Regions from separate parts of the Homo sapiens genome. Here all the other regions are reported to be linked to region 3. The links are microRNA targets in miRTarBase. Many come from high-throughput screens and were not tested one by one. Region 3 holds a microRNA gene; each other region holds the end of a gene's coding sequence. Distances are between the middles of the regions.
The links. Region 3 holds the annotated microRNA hsa-miR-4266 (CUAGGAGGCCUUGGCC, at 2,942-2,957, shown strand). A microRNA usually pairs through its seed, bases 2 to 8, with sites in the 3' UTR of a target mRNA and lowers its output. Matches are read on the target gene's strand: a 7mer-m8 pairs with bases 2 to 8, a 7mer-A1 pairs with bases 2 to 7 and ends in A, and an 8mer does both.

Region 1 (4,102 bases), 91 Mb from region 3:
GCAAAACAAATATATCTTTATTATGTCTTTCAAGTTTAAAGGAAAAATTGCTATTTCTAAAGGTTTTAAAAGTAAGGGTTGTGCTATTGACACTTTAAATTTGTTGGCAATTCATAAAAGTTAAAATGATTCTGTTAAAAGCCTGGAGTGTGCTAACGAAGGGATCTGGTTACAAGAATTATTTCTTACATTGGCTATATGCAATTCGTGATATTTCACTGACATTTTGGGTTTTTTTTTAACTGTAGGTTTTATTTTTAACTTGTTTTTTAAACTTTCTCCAGCTTTATGGTTCCATAATGTAATTTCTGAAGAGTTTGGAGTGGGAGTGAATATCTTTTGGAAGCACCTTCCATCTGAATGCTATGATAAAACAGATACCTATGGAAACAAAGATCCTACAGCAGCATCAAGAGCTGCACAAATTCTGGACAGAGCCTTGAAAACACTGGCCGAGTTACCAGAGGAATATAGGGACTTCTATGCACGACGAATGGTCCTACACATTCAAGACAAAGCCTACAGCAAGAACTCTGAGTAAATAATGAAGTGAATGCAATGCACATTAACACTTTAGTAAGGTATAACGATATAAATTAAAGATTTTGTTAAAATAGGAAAGATACATCAGATTTACAGATTATGTAAGTACGAAGGGGTGTTTGTGTGGATTCTACTTGATACAGATTGTTATAATTAAAGAATGCTGTGCTGGGACCACTCTTTAACATTCAGATGCTGACCACTAAAAGTCCAACTTAAAATGACTTAAAAACAGTAAGAAAATATATTGATTCACAATACATGAAATCTATTGACAGAATGTGCTGCAGTGTTTCTGATCCAATGATTCAGTAATGTCATCAAGAACCTTGGGAACCCGCCTCCACACCCCACCCCCTTTTCAACCACAACATTGGCATCATCCTAAGGCTGGCTACCCTCGTGGTCATGGGATGATTGCCAGTAGCAGTTGGAGCCTTGTGCATCTTCATTTACATGCAGCGGAAGAGTCAGGCTGGATTCTAGGGGCCCTGTCCTAGTATGAGAAAGCTTTCCCAGAATTCACTTTCCATATCCTTAGGTCTCATTGCTCTAAAGTAACTTAGACCTGTCCATCCCTGAGCCAGTCACTGGCAAAGGGTCTAGAATAACCTTTAGGGCAGTCAGGTCCACTGGAGCTGAGAGTAGAAGTGGAGGCCACATGAGGGATATATGGGGACAGAAAGGATAGTTTTTTTAAAATCATGGTTCTGATAGGAAAAACATGAGCAACGCACAATATCTATTACATTTGCCTAGAAGCAGAATTTTTTGAGGAACTTTAAAAAATGTACAGATACCTAGGTCCCAACTTTGTAGACTGATTCAAGAGTGTTTGGGATTTGGTATAGGAACTTAATAGACCTCACAGGGTGTTCTGATGCATAATCAGAGCTGAGATCAACTGGAGTTGATGATAGTGACTTGGATTATTAGTTTTGTGATTAGTGCAAAACAAATGTTTAATCTGATCTTGACTTTTCTTGCCACCCAGTATGTCAGGGTGGTTTTTGGTTTTTGAATGTTACAAAATAAATAATTTATACCTATGTCTAAACCTTAGCCTAGTTAAAGATTTCCCAACTATTTTTTCCACCTATCCCTTTTTTAAAAGAAAAATTACTTAAAGAATGAATAAATGAGATCCTAAAAGTGTTGTCATCGAAGACAGTGAGCCATTGTGTGTGGATCTCTGCTTTTGTTTTGTACCTAGTAATTATATTGCAGTGTCATTGAAGACCACATAATCTTCACTGAACATAAATGTGTTCATCTAAAGCAATCTCTTAGTACATCAATTTGGTGCATTTTAATTAGAGAAAATCATTTTCTCTATTGAAGAGAATCCATCCACTCATGTCCTATAAATTATAGTAAATAAGGAAAAGCATATATAACATTCTGAATTTCCTAGGTGTCTTTGGAAACAGGTAAGTTACTCAGGTGAATAAAGGTGAAAAAAGTCTTGTCAGAAAAGGAATGATTATATTAGCCAAATTTAATTACCAGGTTTTGATCTTCATTAAGCAAAGCAAAGAACTTCTTTACTGATTCCTTGTCCTTCAGTAAGGAAAAAGACAAAACTCTCCTTAGTTTACACATTATTTATGGTCAGTTTTTAATAAATCTTGTTTTTTTTCTTAACCAGCAAGAGAATTGATACAAAGTATAAATCCAGAGTCATGTAGAAAACTTGGAAGTATTAATAAAACAGATTACAGTTTGTGCACTGAATAGTCATCTTAATTGATTGTTTAATGGAGAAGCAAACTGGATGACCTTAGACAAAATAACATTTATCTATGAAGCTTATTTTCCTCATCTTTAAAACAGAACTACAAAAATGCAGAGAGTTCAAGGGCAGGCACATAGTTGATAACTGGTGCTAGTTCTTCTATTTAATTATATTCCATCTTTGTTGAGAGATTTGAGGTAGCTCCTGTTGCAGTATTAATTTATAATATTTTAAAAGTTAGAGAACTTTCCTTTGGGATGTTTTAAAATTATTTCCCTGGTCATAATTAATATTAGGGTCTGTTTATTTCAAATACAAAATATTTTAATCTTTTCTTCCTACTGGGTTAAGACCAAATGAGATGTTTGTTTTTAATGTATAAAATCTTATACAGTGTATGTTAGCTGCAACTTCTCAGGAATTCTGAATCTTAGAACTTTTTTATTGAAAGAGATCTTAGAAGCCATCTAACCAACCCAGATTGCTTAATGATTGTCTGGGTTCACATAGCTATGGGTGATAGAAACCGGGATTCGTTGTGACCAGTAATTCTCCATTCTCCCTAATGTGCAGCACATCTCCAGTACTTCTGAATAGATTACACAGCTTTTCTTTGGCTAGTTTGGGGGCTTGACCTGATGCAAAAAGGAATTTTTTTCCTCTGCCAACAAAATTTCTCACTGCACTGCTTGCTACACAGACAAGATTCAAAATAAAAGTAATGGTGGGTCAGGTGCCATGGCTCATGCCTGTAATCCCAGCACTTTGGGAGGCCGAGGTGGGCAGATCACGAGGTCAGATCAAGACCATTCTGGCCAACATGGTAAAACCCCGTCTCTACTAAAAATAGAAAAATTAAATGTTACATGAAAAACATATTTGAAACTGTACTGCCATTTGTGTAAAACAAGGTATGTGGTGTGTGAACATCTTATTTGCATATGCATATAATTATCTCTAAGGATGCACGAGAAACCAGTGATAATTATGCCTCCAAGAAGAGGTTCAACTAGGTGGGCTGCTTAGAATCTAGTTTTGTATTATTTGGACTTTTGTTCACATTATCCTTTCAAAATACATTTTAAAAATACTATATGCACCGAGGTGGGTGGATCATCTGAACTCAGGAGTTCGAGACCAGCCTGGGCAACATGGCGAAACCTTGTCTCTACCAAAAATACAGAGAATTAGCTGGCTGTGGTGGTGTGCGCCTGTAGTCCCAGCTACTCAGGAGGCTAAGATAGGAGGATCACTTGAGCCTGGGAGGTGCAGGTTGCAGTGAGCTGGAATTGTGCAACTGCACTCCAGCCTGGGTGACAGAGTGAGACCCTGTCTCAAAAAAAAAAAAAAAAAAAAAAATATTATATGCAGAGCTGGGGAGTGGTGGTCCACACCTGTAGTCCCAGCATCTTGGGAGGCTGAGGCAGGAGGAGTGCTTGAAGCCAGGAGTTCAAGTTCAGTCTGGGCAACATGGGGAGACCTGTCTCAAAAAAAAAAACTAAACAGAGTGTAATTATTAGCATTTCATAACATTATTTGTCTTGGTATTTGAATACATTAGAATTCTATTTGTCCTGTAATTAATTTCTAACTCACTTTGATAAAATACCAAAACAAAGGAAACAAAGTCAACAAAACTTAATTTGTATCCTTCATCCTTTTGAACAGCAGCTATGTGAACATTTGGAAAGAACCTTAGTAAGGCGGCTTTTCTATCACCTATAAAAAGTTGCCAACAGACATCAAAGGAGTTGACAAAAAAAAAAAAAAAAAAATGCAGGAAGCTGGAAGGCAGGCCTGGATGGAATTGGAACTGTGCTGCTG
Region 2 (4,121 bases), not on the chromosome of region 3:
GGTGGACACAGCTGGCAGGGTGAGCAGGGGCGGGTCTAGGGGAGACCGTGGGGAGCTGGGAGCACCCCCCCAACACACACACACACACACACACTCTCACACACTCACACTCACACATGCACAGCCAGAGACACGCAGACACAGGCCAGGTATGCAAACACATTAACTGGGCTTGTTTGCTGAGCCCCCGGGTCCCAGGCACAGGCTAAGCACTTTCACATCTGGATTTTATTCCATCCTTATAATCACATTCATCTTCCTGATGAGGAAGCTGAGGCTCAGACAGATCAACTGACTTGCATGAGTTCCCCCAGCTGGTAAGGGGAGGAGCCAGAACTGGAATTCAGGCCTGACCCCACAGCCTTCCCATGGCGCCGCAGCCTCACAGGTGTGTCCAATACAAAGGTGCTGTCCATAGGGTGTGTGGGGGTGAAATTGACCCGTGTGCCAAGATGTGGTGCCAGCCAGGGCCTCAAGGCCCCTGTAGTAACACTCACCCCATGTCTTTCCCCAGGGCCAGCTCTATGGGGGCCTCACCGACTGCATGGTGAAGATCTGGCGGCAGGAGGGCCCCCTGGCACTCTACAAGGGCCTGGGCCCCGCCTACCTGCGCCTGGGCCCCCACACCATCCTCAGCATGCTCTTCTGGGACGAGCTTCGGAAACTGGCTGGGCGGGCCCAGCACAAGGGCACCTAGACGACGGCCCTCACCCCCACGTCCTGACACGGCCGGCACTTGGCCGGAAGTGAGAGCCTGCTCCAGGACAACTGGCTGTCCCGGGGCGGGCCATGGGCCCAGGCCCTGCCAGAGGTCCCGGGAGAGTGTGGACAGCTCTGGTCCATCCAGCCCCTTGGCCCACCCAGGTCCAGAGCATCCACTTCAAGTTACCACCCATTCTGTCTTCCAGACAGTTCTCTTCCTTCTCTGTACTGCGTACTGGGTCACCACATCCCAGAGCCTTGCTCAGTTATAGCAACTGCTGCGGGCGTGCACATGGCATAGGCCCAGTAACTTACATACATCGGCTCACTTAGGCCTCAGACAGCAGCACGAGGCAGGCACTTTTACTTCTTTTACCATTAGAAAGCCAAGGCCTAGAGTGGTGGGCTTTGACCACAGCCACACAATTTTGAAGTGGCAGAGCCAGGACTGGAGCTTAGCCCTGCTCACCCTAGACCTATGCGCTTGACAAGTGCGTGACTGTGACAGGCCCATGGGCCCGGACTGCCCATAGGGGTCACTGTACCATGGCAAAGGCTGAGGTGCACCAGGAGGCTGTGGCGTCGTCACCTGCCTTATTTGCTGGAGAAGCTGTAGCAAAGAACCACAGACTGGGCGACTTAGACAATAGAAATGTATTTTCTCACAGTTCTGGAGGCTGGATGCTGGAGACCAAGGTGTCAGTGGGCTGGTTTCTTCTGAGGCCTCTGTCCATGGCTTGCAGATGCTGCTTTCTCTCTGTGTCTGCACATGGTGGTCCCTCGATGTGCGTCTGGGTCCTGATCTCCTCCTCTTATAAGGACACAAATCATGTTGGCTTAGGGCCCACCCTCATGACCCCACTTTAATTTTTTTTTTTTTTTTTGAGATGAAGTCTCACTCTGCCACCCAAGCTGGAGTGCAGTGGCACGATCTCGGTTCACTGCAACCTTGGCCTCCTAGGTTCAAGCAATTCTCCTGCCCCAGCCTCCTGAGTAGCTGGGATTACAGGTGTGTGCCACCACACCCGGCCAATTTTTGTATCTTTAGTAGAGATGGGGTTTTGCCATGTTGGCCAGACTGGTCTCGAACTCCTGACCTCAAGTGATCCACTGGCCTTGGCCTCCCAAAGTGCTGGGATTACAGGCATGAGCCACCTCACTTGGCCCAATTTTAACTTAATTATCTCTGTCAAGAGCCTATCTCCATATACAGTCACATCCTGAGCTACTAGGGGGTAGGACTTCAACATGCACTTCTGCAGGGGCCGCAGTTCAGCCAACATCATCTTTTTTTTTGAGATGGAGTCTCGCTTTGTTGCCCAGGCTGGAGTGCGGTGGTGCAATCTCGGCTCACCACAACCTCCACCTCCCAGGTTCAAGTGATTCTCCTGCCTCAGCCTCCCGAGTTGCTGGGACTATAGGTGTGCGCCACCATGCCCAGCTAATTTTGTATTTTTAGTAGAGACAGGCTTTCGCTGTGTTGGCCAGGCTGGTCTTGAATGCCTGACCTTGCCGCCCGCCTCGGCCTCCCAAAATGCTGGGATTACAGGCGTGAGCCACCGCGCCTGGCCTCAGCCAACATCATCTAAGGGCTCTCACGGAGGGCCTCCCAGCTGCCCGCCCTGTGGGCATTTGCACATATCCTGACAAGCCTGAAAGAAGCTCCGGGTGCCCATTGTTCAGTCCAGGTGCCCATTGTTCCCGGGACTGAGGCCCGGGAAAGGGAAGCGACGTGGCAGGGCCAGCAGCAGACCCTGGGCCTTTCTCTAGACTGAGCACCATTCCCCGTGGGTGTGCTCTCAGCGCCGCACCGACCTTCACACTGCAGAGATGGATGCCAACTCCCTGGCAGGGGCAGGACTGCTGCCGAGCAGCCCCACCTGCCCTCCCAGCCACACCCCAAGTCTGTAAGGGCCGCTCCCAGGAACACCTGCTACTGCACACTCCAAACCAATAAAGTTTTATATTTTGTTTACTTCAACGACCCTCCTCTGTGGTGAATCTCAGTCTCCCCCATCCCTGACCCCCACCTTCTGCTCCCTCTGCCCTTTCTGTTTGTGAAAGCAGGATGGGAGCCGTGGTCCACCTGTTCAGCTCCGCCCTGCTGGACCCAGGTGAGGCCTGCCACCTAGTGGACCCAGGGAGGAGCATCAGGAAGGGCGGCCCCGGCCTGTGGGAGGAGAAGGCTCAGGCAGGCTCGGGCTGCAGGAGATTCCACACCGAGTCAGAGCCGGAGGCTTTGGGAAGCTGGAACCAGACCTTACAAAAAGCAGGCAGAGCTGACCTCCTGGCTGTGGGGGAAGAGAGCCCCAGACCTCAGGCTGAGAGGGCACAGCTGATCTCTGGCTATGGGGGGATAGAGTCCCTACTCTCAGACCCTGGGCTGAAGGGTCAGAGCCCACACTTCAGGCTGCAAGAGGACAGGACCCACACCTAAGGCGGGGCAGGACAGATGGAGCCTGGGACTTCGAAGGGGCATTGGGTGGTTCAAGCCCTCAAGGAAGATTGCTATTTTTTTTTTTTTTTTTTTTTTTTAGACAGAGTGTTGCTCTGTTGCCCAGGCTGGAGTGCAATGGTGTGATCTCAGCTCACTGCAACCTCCGCCTCCTGGGTTCAAGCCATTCTCCTGCCTCAGCCTCCCGAGTAGCTGGGATTACAGGTGCCTGCCACCACGCCCGGCTAATTTTTTGTATTTTTAGTAGAGACAGAGTTTTACCATATTGGTCAGGCTGGTCTCGAACTCCTGACCTTGTGATCTGCCCACCTTGGCCTCCCAAAGTGCTGGGATTACAAGTGTAAGCCACTGCGCCTGTCCTCCCTCAAGGAAGATTTCAAGTAAAGTGGATGCCAGACTTTAGCAGGGACAGAGACCAGAGACCAGCCCAGAGACACCTGTCCCTTCACCCCACACTGCCCAAATGGGGAGCCCGGGCAGCAGCTGGCTCCAGGCACCCCGTGTGCCTGGAGCTGGGACCTTGCCCTTCTGGGCCTCGAAGGGTTAACACCCCTGGCTCTCCTCCCCTCCCCTCCCCTGGGCCTTTGACCCCTCCCAGCCTCTCTCCTTCCCTCCACCGACACCTTTGCCCAGTGACGTTGGTCTGTCCTTACGCAGACCTGGCCGGAGGCTGGGGCTCCTTCCGGGGCTGCCATGTTCTCTCTTCCATCCCTCCCCTCCTGGCTCCCCGGCCTCCCCTCCCTCGAGTGGGGCTCTAGCCTCCTTGACTCCCTCCTGCAAGGTGAGCACCTCGCCCCATTCCTGCCTTGGCCCCGCCCCCTTCCAGCTCTTTGCAGTGCAGGGTGGACCCCACCCACCTGGTCTCCCGACACCCCTGCCCCTTGGCCGCCCCCTCTGACCCTACCAATGAAGCCTGCCCTCCTAACACCCCTGCACGCTGCCTCGCTGCCTCCCTCCCGCCCCC
Region 3 (4,121 bases):
ACAGAAAAGCAGAGGAAATCTCTAAGAGGAGTGATAAGTTCTCTCCATGTCATGGGCTACCTTGTTAAAGGCTGTGTGTAGTGAAGATCACACTGACATCACACCTGTGTTCCTCCTGTGATAGACAGGAAGCCAGAGCCAGGGAGAAACATGGCACCAGGGCTTCTCCAGGAGCAGGGGCATGTAGAGCCAGCCACCATCACCTGGCAACATGTCCTCCCTCCATCCCCTTCCCAGCATCCACCCAGCCTCCTGGACCGAGGCCCACAGCACTGATAGCCCAGTTGGAGCTGTGCAGATCTGCTGCGAGAGATGAAGCCCAAGAGCCAGGACACTGGTGGAACCTTCCCCAGGCCCAAAAGTTCAGCAAAACCAGCTCTGAACACCTCCTCCAGCCTGCCTTGCCCTCTCTTTTTGAAAGCTTTAGGTTTTTCCTGCTTTACAATTGCATACTGGAAATGCACTTTTCTAACCACATCTAATCTCTAAATACTGGGAATCTTTGCAATTTGGGTGAAAAAAGCCCCTGATGCATGCACATATAATCTCACACAGTCAGACCAAAAAGACTTCTGCTAATGCATCTCAAAAGGCTCCATATTCTCCAAAACAACCCAGAGACACAGACCTATGCTGGTCGCAGGTGACGTTCTGGGAACTGGTGGCTTTGATGCCTAGATCACGTCCTGACAGGTAAGATCAAAGGTCATTCTAGGGTGGAAAAGCGACGACGTCCCTTCCACACCAAGGCAGCAACCGGCATTCACCTGAATACTCTAAATGTCACAATAGCCAGACATAATGAGATGAAAGAGCCCCAGAGGAACCCTGGGTGGGAAAGCCTGGACTGAGACAGAGCTCGCCCCTTTATAGACTGCCAGGAAAGCCTGCACAGGCGTCTCTTCTCTGGACACACACGTCCTTGTGCATCACTGACAGTTTCTGAAAGTTCTGCACAGACAGTGCACAACAGGCACACATGGTCCCCTTTGCTTACACCAAAAACGGATGGTCGTTCTGTATATGCACATTTTCATACTGAGACAGTTCCTTACTGCCTCTTAGTAAAAGCAAGTGCATTCTACAGACACAAGCTATTGCTTCCCTGCAACTATCCTACAGAGATAGGGACAGAGGTTTACTTTGTTTTGAATCACTAATGGAGTTGCAAGACTCAATGAACAAAGCACTTTACCTGGCTTGGCATTAGTTAAGAACTCCAAGTTGGTGTTGGACCCAGGGCCCTATTAAATTGCTGGGTGTTTCCCAGTGGGCACGTCTTTCTGCCTTACTATGGAGAGACTATAGCCCTCTCCACTCAGAGGACTCACACTTGACAAGGGGGACCCAGAGAAAAGTCATCAAATAAGACTTTCTGCTAATTATACTCAGTAAAGTAAAACAGGTTTCCTTTTTCTTCATTATTGTGGAGCAGTGCTGTCCAGTGGAACTTTCTGCACTGATGGAAACGTGTCGTGTATGGGCTCTTCAATGTGGTCGCTGTTCACTGAGTGTGGTCGGTGGCTACCTTATGGGACAGTGCAGCTCTGGAATGCCTGCTGGGGGTTCTCAAACTGTGGGCTTTGCCAAGAATGAGATTCATACGGGGAGACGAAGTTTCTTTTGGTCACCAGCGAGGGCTTAGCTCTGCTTCAATCTCTACCAACTCAGAGGGTCTCCTCTAATATTTTGGTGGTCTGATTCTCCTATTCACTAGACAGAAATATGATGCCAGTACTGTCACACCCTAAATTAAACAAAACCAAAATGGCAAAATAATTTACAGAATAAGAAATTGGCTGGTGGATATTATGCACTTGTAAAAAGATTCATCAAAGGTTTCATCAAGGAGCTGGTTTGCCTTATGCATGTAAAGGAGGATTAATTTACAAGTTTATACAAACCTTTAAAGACCATGGAGAGTGACAGACACATGCAAATTAAGATGGAGACACTATTTATGAAGTGGCAGGAATAATAAAAATGTATTAGTTGATGGTGCTATTCATATGGTAGAGAAATTCATTCCTGCACGGAGGTGACATCAAAGGTCATGCCGTTTCAGGCTGACCTGCTTTCCCCAGGGCAATCTGGTTCCTACCCTCTATCTCTGCTCCCTGGCTATACCAAGGCAGGGTTACAATCACTCTTATAAGATCTATGGGATTCACCCTTCAACGGAGCCATTTTCTGGAACCCTGAGCCTTTGGGATAACTGAGGATTTATCAGTTTAACCATTTCAAGAAATAAAACTTTCTCCTAAAACATATGCCAAGCCCCTGCTTTCTCAAGCAGGCAGCATTAAATATACATGACCCACATGGTTCTGGTGCCCCCATCTCTGGACACCCACCCGCTGGTCTCCCGGGACACAGACCACGACCTTGGCACCTGCAGTTAGGTGACTGCCCAGGCCTGCTGCTTTCCGCTACTGTGTCCCCCAAGTCCACACTTGCCCCGGGTCTCACGGCCCCTCTCTTCCCCCATAGCCTCTTCCTTTTCTCAGTGTCCAGTGTCCCACAGCCTGGTACTCCTTCTTGTCACTTTCCTCCCAGTTCCAAAGCCTTCAACTGTCTTGTGCCCTACAAAACAAAGTCCAAACACGGCACCCTGCATACGGGTCCCAACACACCTTTCAAATATCTCCTCCACTGCCACTCTTCAAATCCCTCTGCTCTGGCTGAGCCCACCTCCCTCCTCTCCCCCACATGCACTGGAATAAGCCCCTCTGTTTCACTCATGCTGCCACAGCTGCCTGGAGCAGCTGACCCCATCGCTACAAAGAAACCGGAAGCACCTTTCAGCTCAAGGCACATGCCATCACCTACAGAGAATCAGTCTCTCTCCACTCATCTCCCAGAATGTTTTCTTCCCATCCCCCTGGGATGTTGAGCCTGAGAGGCAGTGAGCCCCACTGCTGGCCGGGGCCCCTACTCAAGGCTAGGAGGCCTTGGCCAAGGACAGTCCCTATCTGGGCCTCAATGTCTTCCTCAGTGATGCTTAAGACCATTGCGATGACCAACTGGTACAGCGCTCACCCAGCAAGGAGGGCAGGGCCTGGCCCATGGCAAGCACCCAAATGTCAGCCAGGGAGGCCTGGCCTTGTATCCATGCCTCTCATGAGCACATCTTAAAATATGACACTTCACCTGCAGTCTCATCCCGGGCTGTGCATTAGGCTGAACTGCATTTAAATAAATGCAGCAAGAAACACAGATGCCAGCCTCCCCCCTTGGGATGGATGTACAGCAGGTTTGGGGTAAGGCCTGGGCCTTGTGAAGAGGAATAGGGATCCTGATATCATGCCGGTGTCAAGGATGCTGGCATAGACAAGCTCCCTAACCCCTTTCCAGGTCCCCTGGTTCTTCCCAGCTCAGCCCATGCACACAGATGAAGCTGACAGGCACAGGGCAAATATTACCTACAGTGTGAGCCAGGAGCACCACCTGCCTCTGAAGTATGTGGATTGCATGGGTTCCCTGTCTCCTGCCTCTTCTTAACACTGCAGATTTGCCCACCTGTCACAAATCAGCCCCCTTCTTCCGCATTACTGTAGATAAAAGTGAAATCCAAGGGCTGCTGTGGAAAACATAGGGCGGCTCTTCAATAACGTACACCTAGGATGACCACGTGACCCAGCAAGTCCATTCCTAGGTATACACCCAAAATCTAAGACAGGTGTTCAAGCAAATGTTTGTACCCAAATGTTAAGTGCAGCTCTACCCACAAGAGCCAAAAGGTGGAAACAGCCCAATGTCCGTCAGCAGATGAATGGATAAACAAAATGTGGAAATACCATACAGTGGGACATTCTTCAGCTATAGAGGGGAATGGAATTCTGATATACTCTATGATCCTGGATGAACTTCGAAAATACGAAGTAAAAGAAGCTAGACCAAAGGGCCATGTATCGGATGATTCCACTTATATCAAATCTCCAGAGTGGGCAAATTCACAGAGAAAGAAAGCAGGTTGTGGTGGCCTGGGGCCAGGAAGAAGGGGCCCAGCGGGGTGGCTGCTGATGGGTAGAGAGTTTCCTTTTGGGGAGATGAAAACTTCCCAAAAGGAAACTTCTGGAACTAGACAGTGCTGACGGTCGAAACATCATTAATATAATAAA

Region 1: miRTarBase lists TYW5 as a target of hsa-miR-4266. The part of its 3' UTR that is shown has no 7-base or 8-base seed match.
Region 2: the mRNA of SLC25A34 is a reported target of hsa-miR-4266. Seed matches in the 3' UTR shown: 7mer-m8 at 1,656-1,662.

What each region holds. Positions count from the first base shown.
Region 1 is chr2:199,929,506-199,933,607 of GRCh38, reverse strand. It overlaps TYW5 (tRNA-yW synthesizing protein 5), which reads left to right. Exons shown (of 8, transcript NM_001039693.3): 8 at 285-4,102. The coding sequence ends at 541. Among named protein-coding and RNA genes, the nearest start is that of C2orf69, 20 kb to the right of the region's middle.
Region 2 is chr1:15,738,710-15,742,830 of GRCh38, forward strand. It overlaps SLC25A34 (solute carrier family 25 member 34), which reads left to right. Exons shown (of 5, transcript NM_207348.3): 4 at 1-19; 5 at 515-2,683. The coding sequence ends at 697. TMEM82 (transmembrane protein 82) reads left to right here and starts at 3,790. Exons shown (of 6, transcript NM_001013641.3): 1 at 3,790-3,938. The coding sequence starts at 3,851. SLC25A34-AS1 (SLC25A34 and TMEM82 antisense RNA 1) reads right to left here. Exons shown (of 2, transcript NR_149050.1): 2 at 1,342-1,513. RefSeq lists enhancers at 2,900-2,969, 3,371-4,121.
Region 3 is chr2:109,312,417-109,316,537 of GRCh38, reverse strand. It overlaps MIR4266 (microRNA 4266), which reads left to right and starts at 2,913; the gene lies at 2,913-2,967. The region is part of intron 1 of SH3RF3 (SH3 domain containing ring finger 3); the gene reads right to left. It also overlaps a transcript of RANBP2 not described here.